Homo sapiens: one gene and its partners. The protein of the gene in region 4 interacts with the protein of the main gene of each other region in a pairwise test. Each region holds a gene or a part of one and is shown on either strand. Other genes may lie near its edges. The genes, in order: SLC60A2, C19orf18, SYNDIG1 and MFSD6.

Region 1 (5,897 bases), on a different chromosome or scaffold from region 4:
ACACCCAGCTGATTTTTTTTATTTTTAGTAGAGATGGGGTTTCACTACGTTGGCCAGGCTGGTCTCAAATCTCTGACCTTAGGCGATACACCCGCCTCAGCCTCCCAAAATGCCTGGATTACAGGCGCGAGCCACCACGGCCGGCTGAATAAACATTTGTCAAAAGAAGACATACTAGTGGCCAACATGTAAATGAAAAATGTTCTGGATAAACAGAAACTGATTATAAAACAAAAAACAAAAAAAAAAAAAGAAAAAAGAAAATGCCTGACATCACTCATCATCGGTAAAATGCAATCAAAACCACGAGATATCACCTCACCCCCATTAGAATGGCTATAATCAAAAGAACAGAAAATAAAGAGATGCTGGCCAGGATGTGGAGAAAGTGGAATGCTCCTACACTGTTGGAGAAATGTAAATTAGTACAGCCACCACATAAAACAGTATGGAGATTCCTCAAAAAACTAAAAATAGAACTACCATATGATACAGCAATTCCACTGCTGGGTGTATATCCAAAGGAAAGGAGATTGGTGTATCAGAGAGACAGCTGCACTCCCATGTTTATTGCAGCAATTCACAATGACCACATATGGAATCAACCTAAGTGTTCTTCAACGGATGAATGGATAAAGAAAGTGTGGTATATACACTATGAAATATTATTCAGCCATAATAAAATGAAATCCTATCATCTGCAGCAACACGGATGAAACTGAAGGACACTATGTTAAGGGAGTTATTTCACTTAACAGAAAGACAAATATTCCATGTTCTCACTTAGATGTGGGAGCTAAAAAATTAATCTCATGGAGGTAGTGAGTAGAATAATAATTACCAGAGGCTGGGAAGGGTAGGGGACAGAGCAGAGGGCAGCAGGTTGGTTAGCAAATACAAAAATACAGTTAGACAGAAGGAATAAGTTCTAGTGTTTGATAGCACAGTAGAGTGACTACAGTTAACACTAGTTTATTGTATATTTCAAAATAGCTACAGGAGAAGATGTGAAATGTTCCCAACACAAAGAAATGATAAACATTTGAGGTGATGGATATCCCAACTACCCTGATTTGCTCATTACACACTGTATGCATGTATCGAATTATCACAGGGAACCCATAATTATGCATAGCTATTATGTATCAATTCAAAAATCAGTGAAACAACTGAAACATGAATCTTAAACCAACATCACTATTGTTATCAATATTTTATTCAAACAAGTTTTTATATGGTACAAAGCTATGTAAACAGTGAGTAGTCTATTTTTTTTGTTTGAGATGGAGTCTCACTCATGCAGTGGTGTGATCATGGCTCACTGCAGTGTTGAACTCCTCGGCTCAAGGTATCCTCCCGCCTTGGCCTCCCAAAGCACTGAGATTACAGGTGTGAGCCACCACGCCCAGCCTAGGTGAGTAGTCTTAAATTCAGATGTAATAAACCTGCAAGATCATTCCTACTCTGTTAAGCCCCCCAAATCAAAATTGACTGGTGAAAACCTGCCTAGAAGGGCAACCTCCAAAAGATCTGAGCTTTTGTTTTAGGAAGGACTTCAAATAACAGCAATATTTCCTGCACTGGACCAAGCAGCAGTGGAGTGAATAGAAAACATGAGATCTCTTCCTCTCCAGTTTTCCTTTAAGAAAGTGCACAGGCTAGGCGCGGTGGCTCATGCCTGTAATCTCAGCACTTTGGGAGGCCGAGGTGGGCGGATCACGAGGTCAAGAGATCAAGACCATCCTGGCTAACGTGGTGAAACCCCGTCTCTACTAGAAATACAAAAAATTAGCTGGGCACAGTGGTGGGCGCCTGTAGTCCCAGCTACTCAGGAGAATGGCGTGAACCCGGGAGGTGAAGTTTGCAGTGAGCTGAGATAGCGCCACTGCACTCCAGCCTGGGCAATAGAGCGAGACTCTGTCTCAAAAAAAAAAAAAAGAAAGAAAGAAAGTGCACAGAATTTCAAGGATCTACAAAAGTGGCATAACTTAATCAATCTGTAAGTAAGCCTAAGAAAAAACCACGGTCATTAGTAGAGGATCCAGTTTTGTGCACTGATCAAAGCAGTGGTTCTCAATCTTGGCTGCACATTACAATTACGGGGGATTGGGGAGGAGGAGTTACTTTTTTAAATATCCATACTCAGGCTCCACTCCAGACCAAATTGGTATTTAAGTTAAAATGCTGGGCATCAGTCATTTTTAAACACTGCCAGGTGATTCTAACAGCAGCCAGGTTTGAAAACCACTGGAGCAAAGGTTAATCACTTGGGCAGAGGACAAGAACACATTTTGCAATCACGTTTTTCCCTTGGGTCCTCTTTCCTTCTGGAGCTTATGAATTCTGGAGGGTGTAGAAGCAAAATGTCACTTTCCCTTGCTTCAGTAAGACTAAGAACTTCCTATATCATTCTATTAGTCTGTTTTCATGCTGTTGATAAAGACAGACCTGAGATTAGGTAATTTACAAAAGAGGTTTATTGGACTTACAGTTCCACATGGCTGGGGAGGCTTCACAATCATGGCGGAAGGCAAGGAGCAGCAAATCACATCTTATATAGATGGCAGCAGGCAAAATGAGGGCTTGTGCAGGAAAACTCCCTCTTATAATAACCAAAAGATCTCGTGAGACTTCCTCACTATCACAAGAACAGCACGGGAAAGACTTGCCCCCATGATTTAGTTACCTCCCACCAGGTCCCTCCAACAACACATGGGAATTCAAGATGAGATTTGGGTGGGGACACAGCCAAACTATATCAATCACCATCAGAAAAGAAAGACGTTGCACCCTGAGACAAAACAAAAATGATAGGGTCATCTAACTGTTGATGATCTAAAAAACAATAAAACCTTGAATGTTTCCCATAAACCTGGACTCCCTAAGAAATTTTATCCTTGGTTTTTCCTGTACTACATCTGAAGATTTGCCATAACCTTTATGAATACAATAATTACATGAGGCAGTTACTGTTTTTCACCGTGAACAGTCTAATGCAAACTCAGAAACCTTGGCAGTTTTTAATTTTTTCCTTCAAATACTTACGTTTTTTATTAGGCAAGCCAGTCATTCTCTTGCTCTCTTTGCAGGTAAACTTTTCCTTTTCTAAATGCTTCTGTCTCTGAGTATTTCTTCAACAAGGGTAAAGATTCATAGAGTGCTTGGACACAGAACTGGATACTCTGCTCCTGGGGGCAGAGTTCACTGCAAGTGATAAGGGAAAGAGCTGAGAAATGAGAACCTGCTCTGTCAGCCCAAGGGTCTTTGGAGCTGTAATCCAAGATCTAGTTTGACCATAAATATATTCTCTTGGCTGGACTGAATAAATCTCAAAAGTTGGTGTCAGATTCCTTTGTTGTAGGCTTCCTAAGCCTTCTTGCCTATATTCACCTCAACTACACTGTGCCGAGTAATTTCTACAAAATTCTAAATCAAAAATTACCCCAAAGACATAGACAAGTACTAGAAATGAACAAACAAAAACACACACCAAGGAACCAAGAGTTTAGCTACTTTCCTTTTCTAAAACTGGGTAAAACCTATTACAATAAGAGTTACTGGCTCTTCCGCTGATAGAAATTTTGTCATGGCAAATTTTACTTAAAATAGAAAAACATAAGCTTGGTGAAGGCAAGGATCTCATCTGCCTTCTCCTATTATATTCCCAGGGCCCTGGTTACTGAACATGGTAAATGCTCAGTAAATATCTGTTAGATAACTGAAATGCATGAATTTGGAAAACTTTCTGGTCCGCACAGATGAGAACTGTAATAATATCTCTTGCAAACTGGGACTCCTCTTAGAGCTCACTCAAGTAGAAATCTTACCCTCTTAGGAGAAAGCTTTCTTTCTTGGTAAAAATCAAACAATCCACAAACCTTGTCTAACACGCTCTTCCAAAAAAGTCTGCAATTTGGTGTGATTTTGTTTTTCCAGTTCTGATGCAGATGAACCAGGCCATCCATCCCAGGACCTGCCAATTTTCATCCCATTCAGGTATCGATTACCAATATTTATGAAGCCTAGCACTTCTCTGGTACAGAGCAGACAGTGGACATTCCCTTTTGATGATAACAGCTCCTGCATGCAGAGTGGTGGGAGTAGGAGGGTAGAAGTAGCCACTTTCTGGATGGGAGCAATGTCATCAACCCAAAGGGAACCCCTTCATAGGCTAACCAGCAACTCCTGAGGCAAGGCCCAATAAGGGCAATGGCATCTACTCAAGTCAAACAGGTTTCCTCCGGAATCTGGACCAGAGATACACAGAGGAACTCCTGAGGCAAGGCCCAATAAGGGCAATGGCATCTATTCAAGTCAAACAGGTTTCCTCTGGAATCTGGACCAGAGATATATAGAAGATGGGCCAGGAATGCAGAAAACGAGTGGTCCCAAGGAGGGGCAGAACTGCTGTGAGAGAGGCAGAGAGCAGCCCATTTATCGTTCTCAGACCACACACCTTCTGGTTCCAAGGTGGTTCAGAGGGATCTCTGTAAACGAATGAGCACAAAACACAGAACCATTCATTTGGCAGAAAACTGAGATCAAAGCTGTACCTGCTACTGCAAGGACAAAAAAGAAAGTTCATTAATACTTAGTCTACAGAGCCTCACATGCAGTAAGCCCTCAAGCACTTGTGCAATGACTGAACAAAAATTGCAAGCAGAGATAACAAAACTTTGAGGTAGTTGCCCAACATAACTTTTCTTTGAGTTCACTTATTCAGTACATGGGTGCTACTGATATGATCATAATGCGCCTAAAGTCTGAGATAATACCTTAAAAGTATGTGTTTATTCTCTTCCTAAAGCTACTCTCTTCTGGAAAAACTTGATTAAGAAAAAAATCTAAGACAAAAAACACAAACACAACAAAATATTAAAAATAGAATTACCATAAGATCCAGCAATTCCACTTATGGGTATATATCTCAAAAGAACTGAAAACAAGATCTCAAAGACACAGTTGTACACCCACATTCACAGCAGCGTATTAACAACAGCCAAAATGTAGAAGCAACACAAATGTCCACTGACAGATGAATAAACAAAATATAGTATGTATATACAATGGTGTATCATAGACTTAAAAAGGAAAGAAATTCTAACACATGCTACAACAAGGATGATCCTTGAAGACATTATGTTAAGGGAAAGAAGCTAGTAATGAAAGGACAAAAACTGTATGATCCCACTTATATGAAGTACTCTGAGCAGTCAAATTCATAGACAAAGTAGAATGGTGGTTGACAAGGGCTGGGATGGGGGCGTAGAATGGCAGTTACTGTTTAACAGCACAGAGTTTCAGTTTTGCAAGGTAAAAAACGTTCTGTGGATGAGTGGAAGTGATGGTTGTAAGACAATGTGAATATACTTAATGCCACTGAACTGTACAATTTAAAATGTTAAAAGATACATTTTTCCATTAAGTATATTTTATCAAAATTAAATAATTTTTATTGGAAAAGCATCGTATAATCTCAACAAGTTGTTCTGAGCTGACCGGGCACAGTGGCTCACACCTGTAATCGCAGCACTTTGGGAGGCCGAGGTGGGTGGATCACAAGGTCAGCAGTTCAAGACCAGCCTGACCAACATTGTGAAACCCTGTTTTTACTAAAAATACAAAAATTAGCTGGGCGTGGTGGTGCACACCTGTAATCCCAGCTACTCGGGAGGCTGGGGCAGGAGAATCACTTAAACCCAGGAGCTGGAGGTTGCAGTGAGCCAAGATCATGCCATTGCACTCCAGCCTGGGTGACAGAGCAAGACTCCATATTAAAAAAAAAAAAAAAAAAGTTGTTCTGAGCTAAAAGCCAGCCCCTTATGCTACTCATGTCATCTAACTTCAAAACATTCCTCCAGGACACTGGTTAACTAACTCATAACCAAATGTATCAA
Region 2 (9,141 bases), on a different chromosome or scaffold from region 4:
GGTCTTCATGCAAAAGCAAGTACTATCCCAGAGAAGCTCTGAATTCTGTGGACTTGGGGCAGAGTTTAGCCAGAACTTAAACTTTGTTCCATCTCAGAGAGTTTCTCAGATAGAACATTTCTATAAGCCTGATACACATGCTCAAAGTTGGAGATGTGACTCAGCCATAATGTATGCAGATAAGGTTACCTGTGAAAATAATGATTATGACAAAACTGTTTATCAGTCCATTCAACCTATTTACCCTGCAAGAATACAAACTGGAGATAATCTTTTCAAATGTACTGATGCTGTTAAATCTTTCAATCATATAATACATTTTGGTGATCATAAAGGAATTCACACAGGAGAAAAACTCTATGAATATAAGGAATGCCATCAAATCTTTAACCAGAGCCCATCATTTAATGAACACCCAAGGCTTCATGTTGGAGAAAACCAGTATAATTACAAAGAATATGAGAATATCTTTTATTTCTCATCCTTTATGGAACATCAAAAAATTGGTACTGTAGAGAAAGCGTATAAATACAATGAATGGGAGAAAGTCTTTGGGTATGACTCTTTCCTTACTCAACATACAAGCACTTACACTGCAGAGAAACCCTATGACTACAATGAATGTGGGACGTCTTTCATCTGGAGCTCTTACCTTATTCAACATAAGAAAACTCATACTGGAGAAAAACCCTATGAATGTGATAAATGTGGAAAAGTTTTTAGGAATCGCTCAGCCCTTACGAAACATGAACGGACTCACACTGGAATAAAACCCTATGAATGTAATAAATGTGGAAAAGCCTTCAGCTGGAATTCTCATCTTATTGTACATAAGAGAATTCATACAGGAGAAAAACCTTATGTTTGTAATGAGTGTGGGAAATCTTTCAACTGGAACTCTCATCTTATTGGACATCAGAGGACTCATACAGGAGAGAAACCTTTTGAATGTACTGAATGTGGGAAATCATTCAGCTGGAGCTCCCATCTTATTGCCCATATGAGAATGCATACTGGAGAGAAACCCTTTAAATGTGATGAATGTGAAAAAGCTTTTAGGGACTACTCAGCCCTTAGTAAACATGAAAGAACTCATTCTGGAGCAAAACCATATAAATGTACTGAATGTGGAAAATCCTTCAGCTGGAGCTCCCATCTTATTGCCCATCAGAGAACTCACACGGGAGAGAAACCATATAACTGTCAGGAATGTGGCAAAGCATTCAGAGAACGCTCAGCCCTCACTAAACATGAGATAATTCATTCTGGAATTAAGCCCTATGAATGTAATAAATGTGGAAAATCCTGTAGCCAGATGGCTCACCTTGTTAGACATCAAAGGACTCATACTGGAGAAAAACCCTATGAATGCAATAAATGTGGAAAATCCTTCAGTCAGAGCTGTCACCTTGTTGCTCATCGGAGAATTCACACTGGTGAGAAACCCTATAAATGTAATCAGTGTGAAAGATCCTTTAACTGTAGTTCTCACCTCATTGCACACCGGAGAACTCATACTGGAGAGAAACCATACAGGTGTAATGAATGTGGGAAAGCATTTAATGAGAGTTCATCCCTTATTGTACACCTAAGAAACCATACTGGAGAAAAGCCCTACAAATGTAATCATTGTGAAAAAGCATTTTGTAAGAATTCTTCCCTTATTATTCATCAGAGAATGCATAGTGGAGAGAAACGCTTTATATGCAGTGAATGTGGAAAAGCCTTTAGTGGTCACTCAGCCCTACTTCAACACCAGAGAAATCACAGTGAAGAGAAACTGAATTGAATTTATGCGAGTTTTTCGTTTCTTGTACATTTGACAACACATTGAGGAAAACCCTATAAACATAATCAAGAGGGGACATTTTTCATTAAGAGTTCAGTAAGACTTCTCCCACATTATTTACTAGAAAATATCATCTTAGAAGAAACCCCATGAAGGAAAAGAATAGGGAAAAGCTTTCAGCAGTTATTTAGCCCTTACTCAAAATCAGATAATTAACAATGAAGGAAACTCTAAACTCCCCTTATGGTCTACCAGTAATTCATACTTGAGGACCATGACTGTGGGGAATGAGGCATCTTTTAGCAAGAGCTCTCACCAATTGTAGATTGGTGTGAATTGCTAAGGGAAAAACCTTATGCAGAGAAAAGTTTTTGACTGGAAATACACTGTTTTGCATCAAGCTGGAGTACTGGATGGAAAACTCTACAATAACATTTTGTGCATAATTGTAGAAATACAGATTTTGTTGTTATAAGGGGAGGGTCTGGGTGCCCAGGAGTAGAATATGAAGTGCTAAATCTGAATGTAAGAAAAATAATAGTATTGAATGGGGTATTTACTGTTGATTAACCTCCTTAGAGAAAATTAATGAATGAGATGACTAACGGTAGAAAAGTTATTGCCTAGGAGTGTGAGACTGATGTTGCTGGACAGAAAGTGATCCTTAGCCCAGTGTGTCAGCGTCCATTGTTACTCATCACTGCATTGTTGGGCAATTAGTTTGTAATTTGTTTTAGGCAATCACTATAAATTATAATTATGGACACTGCATCAGTATACATAACATGAAGGAATAAAAAGGATACAGAATTGTATATACATACTTACTGTAACACATCTAAAAAAATGTATATGGGTAAGGACCTGAAAGATCCATGGAAAAGTTAACCCAGTTGAGATTTTTAAAAAGTTTTACAAATACATATAACACTTATGTGCTGGGCTTTCTTTTAAATGCTTTCCAAGTGTTAACTTGTTTAGTCCCCTTTACTCTGAGATAGGTACTGTTACCCCAGTTTTACAAATGGCTAAGCTGAAGCAGAGATGTTGAAGGATCCTACCTAAGGGGCACAACTAGTAAGGGAGTAGAGCTGAGATTGGCTCCAGAGTTCTTGTTTTCAGCCACCATTTTATGCTGCCTCTCCAGTGATTTTTTTTCCCATTTTCTTCAGTGTTTCTATAGCAGAGATTTGATAATAAAAAGAAAATCCTAAACAATGAGAAATAAAGTTACCTGGTTTCTCTGTCTCGAAGGATTTATAGTAACATGAGAACTAGTATCCCTTTGGAATATGAAGTCTGTGTTGGACATTCAGAATCACTGCATTTTCTGGGACCTGAGTTCCCTAGAACTTTGCTGCCTGCAACCCCAAGGATAACAGGGCAGCAGGGCCTGGAGGACTTGCTGGAGGACTGGGCAAGTCCCTTGGTGGGTTTAGAATGCCACTTACAGAGCAGAGGGCAGGGGTGTTTGTTCCTTTCCATAACTAGACACCACTGCACTTCAGAGCACCATTACCCAAGGTTTACCTTGAATTCGGTCTTTTATTTTTTTGAAATCTTCTGCAGATGAAAGGCTTACTTGAAGGAGCAGGATTCAGAAGGGAAGAGAGCTAGCCAGTCCACCTAGAGTAATGAAGTCTCAGTGTTCACAGGGGAAAAGGGGAAAGATGGATCAGAAGACTTGGGTGGCTTCTCTCCAGTTCATAAGTATTTCTAAAACTGGGGGCCAAGGATCCTTCCTGGATAGGCTTCAAGGGTATTGAGTGGAACTTGGGCTCATAAAGCTCATCTAATTTTTAAAGGGCCCATGGCTTCCCAGTGGTTGAGAAATGATGGCCTAGTGATGTCATTGGGAGGCTGTTATTTTCACCTTCTGACTCTTCTAGCTTGGGCTCACTTAGGTGTGTAACATTTGATTGTAGTCCTTTCAAGGCCTGACACATTAGTGGTCACCTGATAAATGTGGCAGGGGCAAGTTAGTTATTGATGGATTTTTTTTTTACATGATTTGTGCAAAGGCCCTTGGAGAGAATGAAGTTAGCAGTATTATCTCATCTTGGAGAAAGCAGCATAATATATCCAGAATCATACTACCAGTAGGATGTGGATATTGTATTCTAATAGCCAGAGTGAATCCAAATTATCTGATTTAGAGATTCCAAAGGATTTCATAAGTCATATGCAATATACCACAAGCATCCTGGTAACTTATAACCTTATTACTAAGATTATTATCTTGAAAAAATTTCTAGGCCGGGCACCGAGGCTCATGCCAGCATTTTGGGAGGGACAGGAGGATTGCTTGAGCTGAGGAGTTCAAGGCCAGCCTTGCAACGTAGCAAGATCCCATCTCTGTTTAAACAGATAAGAGTTTTTTTAATGTCTTAAAGGGCCTCCTGGCAGGGCACAGTGGCTCACTCCTGTCACCCCAGCACTTTGGGAGGCCAAGGTGGGTGAATCATGAGATCAGGAGTTCGAGACTGGCCTGGCCGCCAACATGGTGAAAGCCCATCTCTACTAAAAATACAAAAATTAGCTGGGTGTGGTGGCAGATGCCTGTAATCCCAGCGGTTCCAGAGGCTGAGGCAGGAGAATCGTTTGAACCCAGGAGGTGGAGGTTGCAGTGAGCCAAGATTGTGCCACTGCACTCCAGTGTGGGTGACAGGGCAAGACTCCATCTCAAAAAAAAAAAAAAAAAAAAAAAAGGGCCTCCTGTTGGTCAGGTCACATCACGAGTCAAAAGAAAGTCCCAGACTTCTGCTTCTTCCTGGAAGTATTCCCTTCCTCTCACCTATCATGCACAGCCTGGACAGTATTGATTTCAGTGGTCCCTAACATCCAGCACTCCCAGGTCCCCTCTGTCTCCCTCATACATGACATAGTTCATTGCCTTTTTTGAGCCCGTCTTCTATTCCTCCCATCTCTGAAGCCTAGGGCCCACTTTCAGTCATCAGGAGTCCCCCTTTACCTTCCTGCTGTGGGTCTCCCCTGTGCACATTGCCTCCCTTCTAAGGGTGACTGCTTTCCTTCCACTTTCTTTTCTTTCTTTCTTTGTGCAGTGGTACGATTTTGGCTCACTGCTACCTCTGCCTTCTGGGCTCAAGTGATCTTCCTGCCTCAGCCTCCCGAGTATCTGGGACTACAGGTACACGCCACCATGCCTGGCTAGTTTTTGTTTTTGTGTTTGTTGTTTTATTTTTTTGAGACAGAGTCTTGCTCTGTCGCCCAGGCTGGAGTGCAGTGGCATGATCTCAGCTCACTGCAACCTCCACCTCCTGGGTTCAAGTGATTCTCATGCCTCAGCCTCCCAAGTAGCTTGAACTACAGGTGTGCACCACCACGCCCAGCAAATTTTTGTATTTTTAGTAGAGATGGGCTTTCACTGTGTTGGCCAGGCTGGTCTTGAACTCCTGGCCTCAAGCGATCTGCCCACCTTGACCTCCTAAAGTGTTGGGATCATAGGCGTGAGCCACCGTGCCCATTCCTTTTTTCCTGAACATTTTCCAAGTGAGGTTGTTGGAAATCACGGATGGGGAACTATGCATGCGGAGGGCTGACTGTAATTGATTTCTTTCTGCCTCCTCACTAATCTGCACACTGCAGGCAGGGACCTGGTCTCATCATGCCTGCACCTCCAAGCACTGCCCTCTTACACTGTAGTCTCCCCATTGGTCAGCATGGTTCCATGAAGGAACTCCATTATCACAGCAAGGACTGACCTCACACTGGTGGCTCCAAGTCACTGCCCAAACATTCTGAAGGGAGTAGAACTTCTTGATTCCTCAGATAAATAGAGGACAGATGCTGGACTGTAGCTAAGTATTTCCTTTCATCTACGGGATAAAATACTGATAATTTGAGAGTGATGGACAAGGTTCAGAGTGGTTTCCTCATTTTGTTTTTGTTTTTAATGGAATGCCAACTTCATTTATGCTTGCCGTATGCAGATGGACTCCATCCCACTGGAAACATAACAGGCTTACCAGGTAGCTTCAACCACTGGTTTTATGTGACTCAGGGAGAATTGAAAAGCTGTTTCAGGGGAGATAAAAAGAAGGTAATTACATTTCACCGCAAAAAGTTTTCTTTTCAAGGCAGTAAACGGTCACAACCACCCAGAAACATCACCAAAGAGCCCAAAGTGTTCTTTCATAAAACCCAGTTGCCTGGGATTCAAGGGGCTGCCTCGAGATCCACGGGTGAGTCATTGAATTCCTCATTCAGTGGAGTGAGAATCGTAGCCTGGAGTCCTCTTATCTGCCATGTGAATGTGTACTGTGTGCTTGCTGGTAGAAAGGTCCATAAAATAGAGTATAATTAGATAAACATTTGCTTGGAAATTAGATCTTATGCTCTTCACTCTCTGTTAACTGCTTTCTCTTTAGGGATTGCCACTTTCTTCTCTTTTTCATTTCACTTTAATAAGCGCACACAAAAACCTTGATCCCATCCAGATTACACAGGTATGCCTGTCTGACTTGAATTTGGTGCACATTTGGCAGTAGAGCATGCAAGTCTAGACACAGAAGGTTTGTGAGTGTACAGAATTCTTTTTTTTCTTTTTTTTTTTTTTGAGACAGAGTCTTGCTCTGTCGCCCAGGCTGGAGTGCAGTGGCGCGATCTCGGCTCACTGCAAGCTCCACCTCCTGGGTTCACACCATTCTCCTGCCTCAGCCTCCCAAGTAGCTGGGACTACAGGCACCCGCCACCACGCCAAGCTAATTTTTTGTATTTTTAGTAGAGACAGGGTTTCACTGTGTTAGCCAGGATGGTCTTGATCTCCTGACCTCATGATCCGCCCGCCTCGGCCTCTCAAAGTGCTGGGATTACAGGCATGAGCCACCATGCCCAGCCGAGAATTCTTTATAAGCATTTTCTATGGTTCCCTTCTAATTTGAGTACTAGAGGATGTTTGTTTATCTTATAACAGCAAAACCAACCCCGACAATCTTTGAAGCTCAGCAACCCTTTGTGGAGATATATGATGCTTGTAAATAATCTCCATTCCATGCAAGGGAAATGCTGTCTGTGTGATACATTTGCATGTAATTTGTGTCCGAGGAAAGGACACTATTGTTGGTTCCCTGGCCTCTCTGCCTGGCTCTCTGATCCTTTTTTTTTTTTTTTTTTTTTTTTTTTTTTTTTTTTTTTTGAGACGGAGTCTCACTCTGTCACCCAGCTGGAGTGCAGTGGCGCAATCTCGGCTCACCACAACCTCCACCGCCGGGTTCAAGCAATTCTCCTGCCTCAGCCTCCTGAGTAGCTGGGACTACAGGCGCGTGCCACCATGCCCAGCTAATTTTTGTATTTTCAGTAGAGACGGGGTTTCACCATGTTGGTCAGGCTGGTCTCGAACTCCTGACCTCGTGATCTGCCTTCCTCGCTGGGATTACAGGCATGAGCCACTGTGCCCAACCCTTGCTGACCTTCTAATGAGGTCGTAGCCCCTTCAACTCTAAGTCTCTCCAGGTCCTTAATTTGGGCAGAGATTTCCCAACTTGTATGACTGCAAAAGGAGACCAGAAACCAAAAGTATCCTGTTCCTAAAGGTCATTCTTCATGACAGGAAGCACCAGGTGCAAAAAGAACAGCAGGCTCACCAGGCTTCTGCAAATTAACCCACACATTGCTGCCAGGCATTGGGAGGAATGTATTAACACATCCCATCTTAGATATTTGGAAGCTGTGTGTTCGGCGTCCTTCTCTAATGCTAAGTTATTTCCTTGTTTTCCCAAGTTCATCTTAAACCATCTTAAAGTCTCTTCTTTTTGATCCCCTTTGATGGCCTTTTAGCTGCATCCCCTACGAACCCCATGAAATTCCTGAGGAATAAAGGTAAGCCAAGGGATCTGGGAGGGCGGGTGGACCCGCAACATTCCTGAAGCTGTCGTGATGTGTGGCTCCAGAGGGTGCTGGCTGGTCACCAAGGAGCCTGCACACGTGGTGCCTTCATGTGTGTTAGACAAGGTGCCCCCTCTGGAGGGGGATGCGCAGTGACACCGCTTGGGGCAGGTGAGAAGGTGGCTCAACTCCACGGGCTGATGTTGTAGTGAGTAGAGCACAGGCTGTGTCTGAGATCTCTTTGTGGAACACACAAAATGCATGGGCACACACAGCGGCCCTGTCAGCAGCCTTTCTAGCAACTCTCCCCACTGTGGCTTGTCCTGGAACCTCCTCAACACCTCTCGCTTCAGAGTCCTCCAAAGCAGAAGGCACCTTGTGTCCTGCTGCTGCTCCCGCCCCAGAGCATCCTTCCTTCTCCTCTGCACATTTGCTAAGTGCCTGCAACAGGGCGGCTTCTGAGTCAGCTCCCCCACCACCTACCCATCTCCACTGCTTTCACATGTAGCCAGCATTTTATTTAATCACATATGCTGAGTGAGACATGCAGACACAGAAATGACTGTCATGAAGGAAGAAGCCTGATACTCACGGGTCCCTAGAAGCAGGAGTCCACACAAGGAAGCACCAGGGTCTATCAGAAGGCAAAGGGAGCCAGGAAAGTGTGAGCAAAAGCCTTTATTCTGGGCCGGGTGCGGTGGCTCATCCCTGTAATCCCAGCACTTAGGAAGGCCGAGGTGGATGAATCACTTGAGGTCACGAGTTCGAGACCAGCTTGGCTAACATGGTGAAACCCCATCTCTACTAAAAATACAAAAATTAGCCAGGAGTGGTGGTGGGCACCTGTAATCCCAGCTATTTGGGAGGCTGAGGCGGGAGAATCGCATGAACCTGGGAGGTGGAGGTTGCAGTGAGCTGAGATTGGGTCGCTGCACTCTAGCCTGGGCAACAGAGCGAGGCTGTCTTTTTTAAAAAAAACAACTTTATTCTGGTTTTTACAGGAAGGCAGGTAGGGAAGGCGGGCTTGGGATCAGCTTGAGTGATTTGGTGGCTGTGGGGCATGGGGTATGTCCCTGGTTGTCTGGGACCTGGCCCTGGGGTGGTTGGGGGCAGGGGATGGTGGCCTGGAGCATGAGGGCTCCATAGAGATTGTTGGGGTGTAGGCTTTGGGTGTGTCGGCTTGCACATGAAAGGTGCACTTGCAGGCCAGGGTTTACTATCTTCAGGAATTGGCTGGACCTGGGAGGGCAGTCTCTTCAAGGGTCAGTTAAGGCCCCAAGATGTCAAAGTATCAGGAAATACAGAAAATAAAAAACGTGATGAATACATCCATCCACGCCAAACACATTATCAATCTTCCTAAAGCTCAGCTATGACTGTTTCACCTGCCCATTGACACCACCATCACCAAAGCACAGAGCTTGAGTCCTGGCTGGGGTATCAAAGGCCTGCACACTGGTCCTTCTTTTGACACTAGCTCGTTTTGTGTGCTGGTGCTAGAAGGTCAC
Region 3 (7,218 bases), on a different chromosome or scaffold from region 4:
CCCTGTGGACAAGGTGCGGTTGGCAGGAGCAGATAGGAGACAGAGATGTCACAGCCACCCCAAACTCACATTGTCACAGGAGGCTTGTGCTCTCGTACACGGCTTGCTTTCTCATCTGGGCACTTGGCAGGTTCTTCTCAGGCCCACGCTCACCTTCGCATCCCCAGCTTCAGCCTGCTGGCACAGGCCCTGTGTGTCCATCCACTTGCCCCTCAGCTGGGCTCTACTGGATAGGACCCAAGACCATGTCTGGTCCCTGGAGAACACCTAGGCCTTTGTTCCCTGCCCAGCCAGGGGCTGGTCATCTCCACAGAGCAGCACCCTCCTGGCCCCACCCCTGAGGGGGCCGGTCAGCCGCTTGCCTTTCAGAGTCTCCAGGTAGGAACCGGCTGGTCACCCGCCCGCAGTGCTGGACATGCATGGAGCCAGCAGGGTCCCATGGCAGCTGCACCCCCACAGCCTGAGTGAAAAGCAAATGCCTTCCTTCTGTGGATGGGACCCAGGCTCAGCACACCGTCAGTCCTTCAAAATGCTTCTCAGCCTCCAAACCATTTGTGGAGGCACAGGCCTTGAGGCATCTAAATTTGTTCTGCTCTCTTGTTTAGAAAATAGGCAAAGGCTGCTGGGGGTGGGGGCGGGGAGGTCCCCGTCACCATCCTAGGGTGTGTCTCTTGTGATGTGGAGCCTGGGATGGAGCTTCCAGCTGGACCTTCTGTTACAGAGCAAGTGAGCAGAAGAAAGAAGGAGGGAGGGAGGAAAGGGGAGGGAGGGAAGAGAGGGGGAGGAAGGAGGGAGAGAGGAGGGAGGGAAAACCGAGGGAAGAGGGAGGGAGGAAAGAGGGAGGAGGTAGGAAAGAAGGAGGAGTTAGGAAGGAGGGAGGAAGGAAGGAGGAAAGAGGGAGGAAGTAGGAAGGAGGGAGGGAAGAGGGAGGAAGAAGGGAGGGAGGGAAGAGGGAGGAAGGAGGGAGGGAGGAAAAAAGGAGGAAGGAGGGAGGGAGGAAAAAAGAGAGGAAGGAGGGAGGGAGGAGGGAGATGGGAATAAAAAGTAAGGAAGGGAGGAGGGAGGGAGGAGGGAGGGAGGGACTGGCCTTCAGCATGCCAGCATATGCCAAGATACATTATTGGATAAACCAGGGACCTCAGGTGGGCATGAGAAGGGGAGACACGAGGGGACTGGGCAAGGGCAGCCTGGCCACTCCCCCAACTAGAGCAAGACCTGGATCCACCAGGAGCGTCAGAAGGAAGCAGGGCCTAGAACCCACTCCCAGACCTCTCTGCCACCTTCACAAGAAGCCACTCCCTTCAGATAGAACCATTCCCCAAAATGTGACCAATGGGCAGGGTGGGGGGTTCCACCAGAGAGAATTGCTGGTGGGTTTCAGCATTAAACACTACCACCCATGGAATGCAAATTGACTTTGTCCCTCCACAAACTGGTCATTTCTCATCACGAAGCCATGACCAGCATGACCTTTACATGTGGATCAACAGCTCTCGGTCCTTTGACAGCCAGTTCCTTTGACTTGGCCACTTGATAGTGACCATTCAACCTAAGGAGGTGTGACCCAGCGGTGGTACGAGGTGGCTGGACCTCAGTTCTAACGGTGACAACTTCAGCTAAAGCACGTTTGTTCTGGCTGTCCGTCCTCTGCTTGTGTAACTTTTATTTCCTCAGTGTGAACAGCGCTGCACTTGAGGGACAGGAAGGGGGTGCTTCCATAGCTGTCATTGCTATGGCGCAAGTTTACTTTTACTCTTCAATTTAAAAATCGGGTCTTCTACATATCTTTGCAACTAGGGAAGAGAAAGCAGGTCTTTTAATTCCAGAACCGCAGTGCACAAATCATGTTCCAGTGTGGGCTGTGCAGGAGCTCAGTGCCTGGTGGGTTTCAGGTTGCAGGACATCTCCCTTGGGGGCTACGTCTGATGCCCTGCAGCCAGCCCTGCCGATGGAGCCCAGCTGCTTCCTGCGTTCTCAATGATGAGTCCTTGTGCCCTGGGCTGTTAAGGCTGTGCCTCTGCTGTGAGCTGAAACGCTTTCTCTGAAGAGCCCTTACAGTGCAGAAATAGTGTCTTTGGGTCCTGCTGAGCCCCTACCCCCAGCCCACCGCTGGCACAAGGTGCAGGCACTGGGCACTGCTTGGGGCTTCGCCAGTCACCTGCACTTTCTAACCGCCTGCACTTATTTTCCAATGAAAGGCCAATAAAGTCACAAACTTCACTTGCAACCTGTTGGCAAAAGACAGGGAAGGAAAACCAGCCACAAGAAATAACAATCTTGACAAACTTTTTTGCACCTACACACAAAGCCTTGCCTTCAGCTCAGAGACTCTTGGACTCAAGACAGTTTGCCCTGCCCTCATGCACACCAAAAATCTTGTCAAAGAGCCAGGAGCTTTCGTCCAGCAGCTGTCAGGATGGAAACGTGTCTTCCCATTTGCACCCTGCCAAAGGAATGAGCAAGCTGTTTCACAGCCACAGTTATCCATTTTCTGAGACAAAAGGTTCATATCAGGTAAATCACCTTCATTAGACCACGTTGTGTGTTTTGTGTATGTAAATGACGTCTCTGCCTTGCAGGAGTGGGCACTGCAGAAACTCTGGCTTCTATGACACGCAGATGCCGAGTGACGTTGCTGAAGGCAGCCTGCTTGCTAAGGCTGCATCTGTTTGCTGTTTCTGACATATCTCCAGCGATCAGGCCCCTAACACACCACATTCCCTAGGTTTCTTGTTAGAGCCAAACATATAAACCGGCGTATCAAGGTCCCCCAGCGTGGAGAATGAGAATAAAGAGCAAATGTGATTCTCAAGCAGACACACCAGCTTGAGCATGAGAGCTCTGGTGCGTCTATATGCAGAACCTGCAGAGTTGGGCCAGAACTGAGGTCAAGAGTCAGCCCCGTGCCACTGCCTTCCTCCTCAACACCACCAGAGAGACTGGAACTGTGCCCCAGTTAGAGAAGTATCGCATTCCTCCTGTCCCCCCAGAGCCCAGCCCAGGCCCCAGGGAGACCACAACACACAAGAGAGACATGGGCTCTGCCTTGGGGAGCTTACAAGTGAGCAGGAAGGCAACTATTCCGCAAGTGGGTACTCAGATGTGTGAGCCCTCATGAGCTCGGGAAGCCCGGCATGGGTGTTCCCACAGGGGTCAGGGAATGAATGCTGCTGGCAGGTGCCCAGTCAGCTGTAGCAGCTCCACCTTCCTCTCTGCACCCCTTTGCATAGCCCTGGGGATGGCACTAAGGCTGGTGATCATGGCGGGGACACAAAGCCATGACCCTAATGAGCAATGACTCTTTCAGTTAGCGCTAAGGAAAGGCAATTACAGGAAATTGTGTTCGAAGATGTGGGCGTGTGTGGGAGCACTGCTGCATGAAACAGACTTGGCTCACCACGACTTCATTCATTCATTCATTTATTCATTCATTGTCCTAGGAGGCTTCCCATTTTGCATCCCTTTATCTCTGCTCCCTCCAGAATTGTCCATAGTGAGCTCTGAAGCTCAGTTCCAAGACAAAAAGTTGGGGAGGAAAAAAATAAAAACTAGCTTTTAAGATCCGAAAGTTAGAGGAGCGAGAAGGAAGCCAAGCAGCGGCAGGCATCCCTTCCCCACACGACACAGACTTCCAGAGCTCAGAGACCATGGAAGATGCAGGTTCACGTCATGAGCCATCTCTGAGTGTGAGCCTTTCTGGTCCACTGCAGAGGTGTTGGTGTGTTTTAGCTGGTGTGTTTGAGTGAATGACATGCCGACTCCCATACTCACCTATAAAACCTAGTAATGTCACTGACCTTAGGTGGAAATGGGACCCGGTAGAAATCTGGCTTTCTGGAGACGGCCATGAGAACGAGCTAGGACATTCTGCCAGGGTAGTCCTGACCACAGGGGGCCCGCGGGTGGCTTGGGAGTCAACCCTCCTCAGCATCACGTGGGCTCCCGTGGCTCAGTGCTTTGGTAGCATCTCACCCCATCTGCCAAATGAGCCATTTTACTCCGGTGATCCCTCCATGGTGGCCTCCAAAACCTCCATGTTTCCATCTCCTCGTGACCCCAAGAATCATGAATTTGATTACACCAACACCTGGTCATGTCATTGAGCACTCAGGAATATAGGTGTTAGTTTTGTATCAAATGATTTTATTGATGGATGAATTTTACTAACGCCAACCATGTCCAGGGTGGGGACGGTCAGGAAGTGAATGACTCATGGCCACAGCAGGTGAGGCAGCTGAGGAGGAAGGTTTCAGGTGTCCTCCAGTGGTTTTCATGATCTTATGCCGGAGTTTCTCTCGGGGAAATGGGAACTGTCATTGCCTTCCGCACACCTCCAGTGGGTAGCAGAGATTCAATAAGATAGATAGAAATATGCTTTAGAAAATTACGAGTTATTCAAATAAACAAGCACACCATTCTTGGGTAGAAAGAGCAGCACTAGAGGAGTCTTATCTAGCCCATCCCTCAGTACTCGTGCTGGAGATCCCAGACCCCACACTGATGGAACTCAGTTGGGCTACTTCCAGCCTTCTCTTATTCCCTTGGGGCCAAGTAGAAAAGAAGTCTGTCTTCCCTGCGGTGTGGGGGAGCAGCAGCAGGCCCCAGCCCCACATTTGTTTCTTGCAGTTAAAGAACTGCCCTGGTCATAGCAGGGGTGAGCACAGTTTCCCCCTCAGCCTTCTCTGCATCAACAATGCCTTTTTCTGAATCAGGAGCCGTAGATGAGCCCTCCACTCACTGCTTGTTCCGACTTGCTTACAATGACTTCCTTTTTCTTCTCCAACTCTGCAGACCAACAAAGCCGTGGCCAAGGGGGACTTGCACCAGGCCAGCACCAGCTCCCGGCGGGCCCTATTCCTGGCAGTGCTGTCCATCACCATTGGGACTGGCGTCTATGTGGGCGTGGCCGTGGCCCTCATCGCCTACCTCTCCAAGAACAACCACCTGTGAGCTTCCTGCGAATGGAGGGGGAGCACCCGGGGCCAGGTCTGTGTGGACGTGGAGGAAGCAGGCATACCGCATGATGCTGTACAGTACAAATGATTGCCAAATGATGCCACGAAGCCCTGGGATTTCCTACCCATGGATTTATTTTGTTTTTATCCTTTAATTTCATGTTCACAGCACTGTGTAGAGCACCAGACAGACGGGCACTGCTAATCCTTCCAAAGGAAAGCTCCAAAGATCCCAGCCCGCAAGGCTGTCTCTGGATGGATTCTGGTGGATGAATGGCAACGCGGCTCTCTGCAGCCTGCCAGTGCCCAGAGTGCCACCGCATTAGCAATATACAAACAGTCCAAAAAAGTGTTTATTTTTTATGGAATACGGTGCAATAGGCAGAGGACAAGGGACACATCACTCTTCTGTCTGTGGCCCTGCTGGAGTCCTTTGTGCCCCCCGGAGTCCACACGCCTTCCCTGCAAGACGAGAATGGGGCTGGGAAGAAAGAGGCAACACCACGGCTGGCAGGAGCCCCGCTGCACTGCTCTGCAGACCCATTGGCCTGACCCTGAGAAGCAGAGCCAGCAAAGCCCGGGACCTGCCCCTCTTTCTTTCCCTTCACACCACCCCAGCCTCAGGATGTCAAGCCACCTCCGGAACGTGTCTACACTCCACAGCTACCCCGCAGCAATACGCACTCTTGGGACCTCGCTGATCTAGGATGGGGAGGCAGGCCACCGCCCCTCCCAAGACTCCTCAAGAAAGAGCCCCGCGGTTGCTCCGGAAACTCGAGGCACTGCAGCTATGGGCACTGCCTCAGCCTAAAGACACAGGGGCGCCTCCCAATCACCGCGCTGGCGGATGCTCACCCCGTCATAAGCAGAAACTAGTGATCCTGGAAATGAGATGGGCCTTACTCTGTCGACTAAATGAATAGCTATTTTCTTGTCATTTTTTAAAGTGCAACTCTTGCTTCATGCTGCTTAAGTTACCAGATGAATGCTGAGAAATAAGTAATCACAGACATTTTAATACCATTTCATTGCTGTTTTACGAGTGTTCATTACTTAACAAAAAATTATCTTTTAGCTTTTTCGCTTAAGACTTTTCTTTCTGATGAATAGCTGTCGTTGGGTTTCATTTATACTTTCCCCTTGTGGTTTAAGGAACTGCAGAGCCACCCAGGCCTCCACTGCTGAAATAGTAGGGGGGTCTCAAGGAGAACCAAAGTCCCTGCCGCTTCAATTTCCACCAGTAAATATGATCGTCCTAATCCCCTCAGTGGACACAGAGACCCCCTCTCCAGGACGGTGGCTCCACCGGCAGCACTTCGCAAATTCCTGAGGCCTGGGTCAGCCCCAGGCTGACTTGATGGGTCAGGATGTGGCCTTGTAACTGCAACGTGAAGCCAAGGTTGAGAACCACTGCCCTGGACTAAGGTCTCTGTGTTTGATCCTTCTGCCTGAAACTCTCCTCCTTGACCTTGAACATTTAATATTCTGAAAATTATTAGCACTGTCTTCTCGGGTCAAATTTGAGATCCATCTAGCATTTGTCTCTACTGGGTGGTTCACAAACACTGTAGGATGTTAACCCTAAGAAGTAGATAAGGAAGCCAGCCAACACCCCTGTAGGAGTTAGAGTCACTGGCCATGGAGGGCATAGGTTTAGGTTCAAACCAACCTGGATTTGAATCCAGCTGTGCTACTTTCTAGCTGTGTGATCTTGGGTAAAGGTTTACACCTCAGTAGGGCACAGTGGCTCACACCTGTAATCCCAGCACTTTCGGATGCCGAGGAGGGTGGATCACGAGGTCAGGAATTTGAAACCAGCCTGACCAGCATGGTGAAATCCCTGTCTCTACTAAATATGCAACAAATTAGCCAGGCATGGTGGTGGGCACCTGTAATCCCAGCTACTCGGGAGGCTGAGGCAGGAGTATCACTTGAACCCAGGAGGCGGAGGTTATAGTGAGCCGAGATTGTGGCACTGCACTCCAGCCTGGGCCAGACAGAGCAAGACTCCATCAAAAAAAAAAAAAAAAAAAAAAAGGTCTACACCTCTCTGAGCTTCGTCTCTAGGAGAGGATAATCAATAAGGCCCATTTTGAGCTTCGTCTCTTGGAGAGGCTAATCAATAAGGCCCATTTTGTGGGGTTGCTGGGGAAGGCACGAGGCACAGACCATCACGCCTGGCAGGAGCAGGTGGTCATGGTTACTATCATGTCCTTGGCTGGCTGTCCCATGGCTGGTCAATGTCCCTCCATCTCTCAGGGTT
Region 4 (8,730 bases):
ATGCATAAACTGGAAAACGCAGAGGAGATAAATTCCTTGAAAGACACAACCCTCCTAGCTTAAATCAGGAAGAATTAGAAACCCTGAACAGACAACTAAGTAGTGAGACTGAATCAGTAATAAAAAAATTGCCAACAAAAAAAAGTCCAGGACCAGATGGAGTCACAGCTGAATTCTATCAGGCATTCAAAGAAGAATTGGTACCAATCCTATTGACACTATTCCACAAGATAGAGAAAGAGGGAATCCTCCCTAAAACATTCTATGAAGCCAGTATCACCCTAATAACAAAACCAGGAAAGGACATAACAAAAAAAGAAAACTACAGACCAATATCCCTGATGAACATCAATGCAAAAATCCTTAACAAAATACTAGCTAATCGAATCCAACAGCATGTCAAAAAGATAATCCACCATGATCAACTGGGTTTCATACCAGGGATGCAGGAATGGTTTAACATATGCAAGCCAATAAATGTCTTTCACCACATAAACAGAATTAAAAACAAAAATCACATGATCATCTCAGTAGACGCAGAAAAAGCATTTGATGAAATCCAGCATCCCTTTATGATTAAAACCCTTAGCAAAATCAGCATACAAGAGACATAACACAGTGAAATAAAAGCCATTTGTGATAAACCCACAGCCAACATAATACTGAACAGGGAGAAGTTGGAAGCATTCCCTCTGAAAATTGGAACAAGACAAGGATGCCCACTCTCACCACTTCTATTCAACATAGTACTGGAAGTCCTAGCCAGAGCAGTCAGACAAGAGAAGGAAATAAAGGGCATCCAAATAGGTAAAGAGGAAGTCAAACTGTCGCTGTTTGCTGATGATAAGATTGTATACCTAGAAAACCCTAAAGACTCCTCCTAAAAGCTCTTAGAACTGATAAATGAATTCAGCAAAGTTTCAGGATACAAAATTAATGTACACAAATCAGTAGCTCTGCTGTACACCAACAGTGACCAAGATGAGAATCAAATCAAGAACCCAACACCTTTTATAATAGCTGCAAAAAATAAAGTATTTAGGAATACACCTAACCAAGGAGCTGAAAGACCTCTACAAGGAAAACTACAAAACACTGCTGAAAGAAATCATACATGACATACACAAATGGAAACATATCCCATGCTCATGGATGGGTAGAATCAATATTGTGAAAATGACCATACTGCTAAAAGCAATCTACAAATTCAATGCAATTCCCATCAAATACCACCATCATTCTTCACAGAACTAGAAAAAACAATCCTAAATTTCATATGGAGCCAAAAAAGAGCCTGCATAGCCAAAGTGAGACTAAGCAAAAAGAACAAATCTGGAGGCATCACACTACCTGATTTCAAACTATACTATAAGGCCATAGTCACCAAAACAGCATGGTACTGGTATAAAAACTGGCCCATGGACCAATGAAACAGAATAGAAAACCCATAAATAAAGCCAAATACAGCCAACTGATATTTGACAAAGCAAACAGAAACATAAAGGGGGAAAGGATACTCTATTCAACAAATGGTGCTGGGATAATTGGCAAGCCACATGTAGGAGAATGAAACTGGATCCTCATTTCTCACCGTATAAAAAAATCAACTCAAGATGGATCAAGGACTTAAATCTAAGACCTGAAACTTAAAATTCTAGAAGATAACATCAGAAAAACCCTTCTAGACATTGGCTTAGGCAGAGATTTCGTGACCAAGAACCCAAAAGCAAATGCAACAAAAACAAAGATAAATAGATGGGACTTAATTAAACTAAAGAGCTTTTGCACAGCAAAAGGAACAGTCAGCAGAGTAAACAGACAACCCACAGAGTGGGAGAAAATCTTCAGTCTATATATCCGACAAAGGACTAATATCCAGAATCTATGACGAACTCAAACAAATTAGCAAGAAAAAAAAAAACACCAAAGAGTGGACTAAGGACATGCATAAACAATTCTCAAGCAAAGATACACAAATGGCCAACAAACATGAAACAATGGTCAACATCACTAGTGATCAGGGAAATGCAAATCAAAACCACAATGTGATACCACCTTACTCCCACAAGAATGGCCATTATCAAATAATCAAAAAATAATTGATGTTGGTGTGGATGTAGTGAAAAGGAAACACTTCTACACTGCTGGTAGGAATGTAAGCTGTACAAACACTATGGAAAACAGTGTGGAGATTTCTTAAGAACTAAAAGTAGAACTACCATTTGATCCAGCAATCCCACTACTGGGTATCTACCCAGAGGAAAAGAAGTCATTATATGAAAAAGATACTTGTACATGCATGTTTATAGCATCACAATTGCAAAAATGTGGAACCAGCCCAAATGCCCATCAATCAATGAGTGGATAAAGAAACTGTAGTGTGTGTATGTATGTATATGTGTGTATATATATGTATATGTGTATATGTGTGTGTATGTGTGTGTGTATATACACACACACACATATACATACATACACAATGGAATACTACTCAGCCATAAAAAGGAATGAATTAATGGCATTCACAGCAACCTGGATGGAACTGGAGACCATATTCTAAGTGAAGCAACTCAAGAATGGAAAACCAAACATCGTATATTCTCACTCATAAGTGGGAGCTAGGCTATGAGGATGCAAAGGCATAAGAATGATATGATGGACTTTGGGGACTCAGGGGAAAGGGTGGGAAAGGGGTGAGGGATACAAGACTACAAATTGGGTTCATTGTATACTGCTTGGGTGATGGTTGCACCAAAATCTCACAAATCACCATTAGAGAACTTACGTAACCAAATACCACCTGTTCCCCAAAAACCTGTGGGAATAAAACATTTTTTAAAAAATAACTATCACGTGGCTTTTCCTGTTTTGACGTCTTTTTAATCATAATCCTGTAAATGGGCCTAAGGCAACACTCATTATAACCTATGCCCCACTGATGTTCTAAGTTAAATGAAAAATATATTTCTTAAATATATATGCTAATGTCTATTAAGGCCTATAAAGAGACCCAAAGATAAACATCATGTTCATTGATTCAGTACTTACACCAAGTAATGAAGTCATTGGTAACCAGCAATTTATTAATATTATCAAGCACTCTGGAATGGGTATATGGGATTCTTGGTTTATTTATTTATTTTTACCTTTGTTCAAATATGTAGAAAATGCTGAAAAAATAGTTTAAACATTCTTTTCTCTCCAGACAAGACAATGTTGGCAGAAAGAATTCCTGTTCCCTCCAGTCCCGTTCCTATAGCAACCATCGACTTGGTACAGCAACAGACAGAAGATGTCATGCCACGCATTGAGCCCAGACTTCCACCCAAGAAAACTAAGCACCAGGAAGAACAGGAAGATGTGAACAAACCAGCCTGGGGAGTCAGCTCTTCTCCCTGGGTGACCTTTGTCTATGCACTCTACCAAATTAAAGAGATGATGCAACTCACAAGAGACAACCGTGCTTCTGAGATACAGCCTTTACAGGTACAGTTCCTTTGCTGGGCTAGCAATATTACCTGTCACTCAAGATACCTTAACTGGGCTCAGTTTTAATTACTCACTTTTCATTCAACAAGATTTATTGAAAGTCTGGTGGGGGAAATAGACATGCAAACAATTTCAGTACTCTGTGAGCACTGAGTTAAAGAGGGTGTATACAAGGTCCCATAGAGAGAATATTCTGCCTTATGGAGTTCAGGAAAACTTCAGAGGTTATGATTCTTTCACTTCTTGAAAGAAATAAAATAAATTAATCCATTCTTTCATTGTATATTTGTTTTAAATTTCAGTATTGATGGTTGTCTCTGTAATTCCAAAATTCTAGTGGGGGCATTATATTATAGGACCACAATAAATATTTGTTGAATTAATTAATCTGAGCCACTGTATGGGTCTGATAGGACACCTAACTCAGTGGAATTATGGTTATGCAGGTGGCCTCACCTGAAAAATAAGTCTAAAAGTGTGATTTTTCTTGTCCCCAGAGGAGTGATCTTTCCTGAGTAAAGTTAAAGCATGTTGATAAAAGTGTGGATAATTGTACAGGTGTATCCCGACTTTGGAAAATGAGTGTAACTTCTATAAACAATTTAGCCAAAGAAATAGGCTCAGTTCCCCCATCTCATGATAATCACTCCCTTTTATTTGATAAGTCACGTCAGCTTTGTCTGGAGTAGCTTCAGAGGACACATAAAAATAAAGGGGAAAGATTTAAAAATAAGGGTCATTTGAGTAATTCCCCTTTCAGAAAATTTGTTGAACTGTTAATTAATCTCACTTTGTAAGCTAACATAAAATCTTTGTGAAATTTTAACCAAATCTGGTTCTTTACTGATAACCATATGCATGCTAGTCCATGCATGATCCTATTTATTAATTTATCAAGATAATAAACTCACATCATTACTCTGCTCAGTCAAGAACCAGATATTGTGGTGGGAGATGCATATGGAGGATTTTAATACCTTAAAGCAAGAAGACTAAACAGGAGAAAGGATGATTTTAATATCTGCTGCTTGAGTAGCAATATTTTCATTACTTTGTGTACTCATCCTCATTTTCACAGAAGCCACATAAAATTTTTGATGTGGCGCTTTTTTTCTGGTATGTTAGGATTAATAAATTTTTTTCTGGGCTGGGCATGGTGGCTTATGCCTGTAATCCAAGCACTTTGGGAGGCCGAGGTGGGTGGATCACGAGGTCAGGAGTTCAAGACCAGCCTGGCCAAGATGGTGAAACCCCGTCTCTACTAAAAATATAAAAATTAGCTGGGCATGGTGGCGGGTGCCTGTAATCCCAGCTACTATGGAAGGCTGAGGCAGAGAATTGCTTGAACCCAGCAGGAGGAGGTTGCAGTGAGCCAAGGTCACGCCACTGCACTCCGGCCTAGGCGACAGAGTGAGACTCCGTCTCAAAATTATAATAACAATAATAAATAAATAAATAAAATGTTTCTGGTATGTTAGGATTAATAAAAACTGGCAGGTATGCTGTAGTTATTCTTAGAAGTCATTATACTAAGTTTCTTTTTCTTTCATTGTAGAATCACAGAAATGAACATTTTTATTTGGGTGTTCAGCCAAAAAGTGATGGGTACTAATTTGGGGGAGAATCCATTTAAATTTTTTTTTATTTGTACAACCAATATGGCATTTATGGAAATTGCTGCTGGTGATGTTCTACTCATGGTTATTTACAGTTGGTTACACAAGTGCTTGTTTACATTCACTTCTTTATGTGGATGTTCTGTCTTATCTAACTTTTGGTGCACATTTTGAAATACCAAATATATATCAGGACTCTTAATTACAGGACATTCTTTCCCAGCTCTGCCTCCAAGGATAAGAACCCCTTATTTACCTCCTGTTAGACAAAGTGTCTTCTGGCTCTTGGATTCTGTGGTCTTAGCAAGCGGCCTGAGTTTCAGTTATTCCATAGTGCTTGCCCAGCGACTTGCCACATGGCTTGGGGGGCTCAGTAAATATTTGCTGATGTAAACTGTTTACCAAGTACTAACAGACATTTTGGTAGTAATGTTCCTTTTTCCACAAGACACGTCTGCTTATAGTGTTTGTGTTTTTCATGCGGCTCTGGCAGTTGCACATAGGAAAGGAGATGAAAGGTAAGACATTCTATCCTTATTCCTCTATTACTTGGTCCCTGAAATGGGCACTTCCGGATGATCTCCCCATGTTTCCTGTCTTACTTGAAAGCATATATAAAAAGTTGGATTTATTTGCTATCACTGATCATGGGGCATCTCCTGTTTTTTACCTCCAGGGGACCAATGAGAATAGGGAAAATTCTCCTGCTGGTAGAGCCCAGCCTGTCCCATGTGAGACTCACTCTGACCCATCTAGAAACCAGCCATCCCCTGACGCAGCAGCATCTCAGACGCAGACCAGCCCCGCTCACCCCAGTGTGGACCCGTGCACAGAGGAGAGTGAAGAGCAGCAGGCTCAGCTGGCCGCGGGAGGACACTGAGGGCATCCTGCTCATCTCACACCCTGCATGGAATCAGGCTCCTCAGCCAGGACACAGGGTGAGGCCCCCCAGCCAGGATATGCCTCCCCTGGAGGAGCACAGCACTGCATATGCTTCTAAATATCTAAACTCATTAACATGGAAACACACACACAGGAGCTACAGTACATATTGGCAGGAAAAGGTAAACTTTCGTAATCTCATTGGAATTACAACAGGGAAATGGAGTTCAATGAGGACTTTCAGTTCTTTGCTTGGTTAGGTTAAGGATGATAGAATTTCTCTGCCAGTGCAGTAAGAGTTGAAACCGGCAGTTACACTAAGTAAGTGGAGGGAATGAAAGTGTTTCGAGGTGAATGTGGATATAATTTCCCTCTTCTGATTATTTATTCTTATTTGGTTCCTAACACAAACTGGGAAGAGATAGAATTCATCTATACTTTCTTTTTTCTTGGAGAGAACCGTTTAAAAAATTACAAGATATATTTAAAAAGTAACCAGATAAAAGTAGCACATGTGCTTTTGTTAAAAATAAAGTTAAAAGTTAAAGTTAAAAAATGAAGTTAAAAGTTTCATCAGAAACTTTACATATCTTTAGCAAATATATTTTTATATGTGTATGGCATATAATGGAAATAATTCTTTGAGCAACAGAAGCTATTATTAACTACTGCAAGCTAAGCCGAGCTTAAAAATGCCTTTTGTTTTAAATGGGCTTTGAGAAAAAAAACAGAAACAAGCGATTATTTCAAATCAACCAACCAACTCAGTATCCTGTGTTTTGATAGACAAGAGTTTACTAAATATATTGATACTGTAAATAGCCTCTCTCGCTATTTACTATCTTATAGTAATTCAGGCTCTAATTAGCTGAGGGAATGAAACACACAAAAATCACTGAATTCCTAAGAGTTCCTTAAATAAGCAGTACTAGTTACAAATCACAGTATAAGATTTAAGTGCCTGGGGGAAGGATACAATTTTTAGAAATTACATATTGGGTCAGTTTTGTTTTGTTTTTGGTGAGGAAAAGGTGGTAAATAGGAAACCATGAATGGGAAGGATGGCAATAAGTAGCAACTATACTTTCCAATGACTAAAGAAAGAAAATCTCAGTATATTCGTTCTCATGAAGACACAGTCAGACACTGGACAATGTAATGTATGCAACTGCAAACGTTACAACTGCAGCCAGAACAATGGCTGGGTGGATCGCACGTAAAGCTTGCCACTAAAAATCAAAGCAGAGGTTAACAGGAAACCTGGGGGGAGTGTGGAAAAGGGAAAACTGTTTTAGCTGAATAAAGGTGAATTATATAATTTATAATAGCTGTGGATGAGCACAGGAGAGAGAGGAAAGAAAAGAACAGTCGAAATGAGCAACTCACCTTACCCTCTGACCCTGATTAGACAGGATCAATTGTAAAGTGAGGGCTTCTCCATGACACCATAGTTCTGCCCAATACTGCATTTGGGATAAGAAATTCTACACTTGGATGTCTCGCTTCACAATAAAACACAGCTTAAAAATAAAATAACTGAAAGAAATAGAATTCAGCAAATAGTTATTTTTTGCACTTGAACTGAAACGTACTGTACTGTAAATTATGACTCATTTTAAGTGACCTTTAAAATCAGATGTATTTATTATGCTTGTGTAATTATAGAAATAAAGAAATGGGTGACAGGCTTAACCTCACCTATGAATGTACAGTATGTGGATTTGTGAAACTGACTGTAGGAAGTCAAAAACTTGTACTGTATCTTGTGTTTACAGTTCTGATTTATTCCTTTGAAAAGCCTGCTGTTTTGGAAATGCACAGTTGACATGTTGAAATAAAAATGAATACCATTTTTAAATGTTTCTTAAATGATAAAGATGTGACCAAACAAAAGTCCTATACTCTAATGAATGAGACCAAATTCAACATGCCTTTGTTATGGAACATTTACTGTGACAGCAGAATCGATAATGCAGTCATTTCCAGCCTTGTGAGCTGACACCTTCATGGGTTTGTGGACTTTGTGACTTTTTCTTCCTGTCCCCAAAGTGCCATATGCTACCTTAAAAAATATTAAAGTGAATTCAAATTACATTTTGATTTGAGATTTTGTAACCCCTCTTGAGATCCCTCAACACACACAGGGGTGTCACAGAGCCCAGGCTGGTAATCACTGCCTTAATGACTTACTTCCTACTCTTTCTCCTATGGTTGTAGAAACAGTAAATTACCGAGTGCTGAGCTTGTGTGGATCCAAAGTGGTTAACTGCTAATTATTGAACTATTCCTCAAGTTTTAGGAATAGATTATAATACATACATTGTCCAGCAGGCAGTAAACCTCATGAAAAGTGTTAAGGAATTCACAGGAAGAGCAACCCTGCTTTACTGGCTTATTAATCCTGCCATGGGTCACATGAAGTGGATAGCTGGCTAATAGCTTCCCTCTAATTGGCAATTCCTTCCAGTACTGCTGAGGTACTGAGACCATTACTTAGGCAATATTCCTCTCTGCCAATTTGGAGTTCAGCAGGGAATCTAGGAAAAGGGAACCACATCCGTGGATATTGGGTGCTTGTAGTGTGCTGATGAGATTATCATTTTGCCCTTAACAAAAACTGGAGGTGTTCCTATCACTATCCCCATTTTAAACAAGAGAATTCTGAAGCTAACAGTTTAAGTTATGAGATCAAGGTCACAAAGCCAGGATTCAAACTCAAATCTTCCTAATGTCAAAGCCCTGG

The links.
Region 1: the proteins of MFSD6 (region 4) and SLC60A2 interact in binary tests that used the Homo sapiens proteins (3 or more experiments, as listed by UniProt).
Region 2: the proteins of MFSD6 (region 4) and C19orf18 interact in binary tests that used the Homo sapiens proteins (3 or more experiments, as listed by UniProt).
Region 3: the proteins of MFSD6 (region 4) and SYNDIG1 interact in binary tests that used the Homo sapiens proteins (3 or more experiments, as listed by UniProt).

The regions. Positions count from the first base shown.
Region 1 is NC_000006.12:111,275,307-111,281,203, reverse strand, and holds the end of SLC60A2 (sodium-dependent glucose transporter 1), read right to left. Parts: 3' UTR 1,199-5,897; downstream 1-1,198. UniProt on the Homo sapiens protein: May function as a sodium-dependent glucose transporter. Potential channels for urea in the inner medulla of kidney.
Region 2 is NC_000019.10:57,970,949-57,980,089, reverse strand, and holds the start of C19orf18 (uncharacterized protein C19orf18 precursor), read left to right. Parts: upstream 1-5,555; 5' UTR 5,556-5,657; coding exon 5,658-5,778; intron 5,779-5,886; coding exon 5,887-5,991; intron 5,992-7,585; coding exon 7,586-7,627; intron 7,628-9,141. Other genes in the region: ZNF606 (zinc finger protein 606), read left to right, coding at 1-1,789.
Region 3 is NC_000020.11:24,660,555-24,667,772, forward strand, and holds the end of SYNDIG1 (synapse differentiation-inducing gene protein 1), read left to right. Parts: intron 1-1,892; coding exon of another isoform or gene 1,893-2,045; exon of another isoform or gene 2,046-2,514; intron 2,515-4,791; coding exon 4,792-4,950; 3' UTR 4,951-6,062; downstream 6,063-7,218. UniProt on the Homo sapiens protein: May regulate AMPA receptor content at nascent synapses, and have a role in postsynaptic development and maturation.
Region 4 is NC_000002.12:190,494,234-190,502,963, forward strand, and holds the end of MFSD6 (major facilitator superfamily domain-containing protein 6), read left to right. Parts: intron 1-3,205; coding exon 3,206-3,486; intron 3,487-5,598; coding exon of another isoform or gene 5,599-5,623; intron 5,624-5,781; coding exon 5,782-5,985; 3' UTR 5,986-8,081; downstream 8,082-8,730.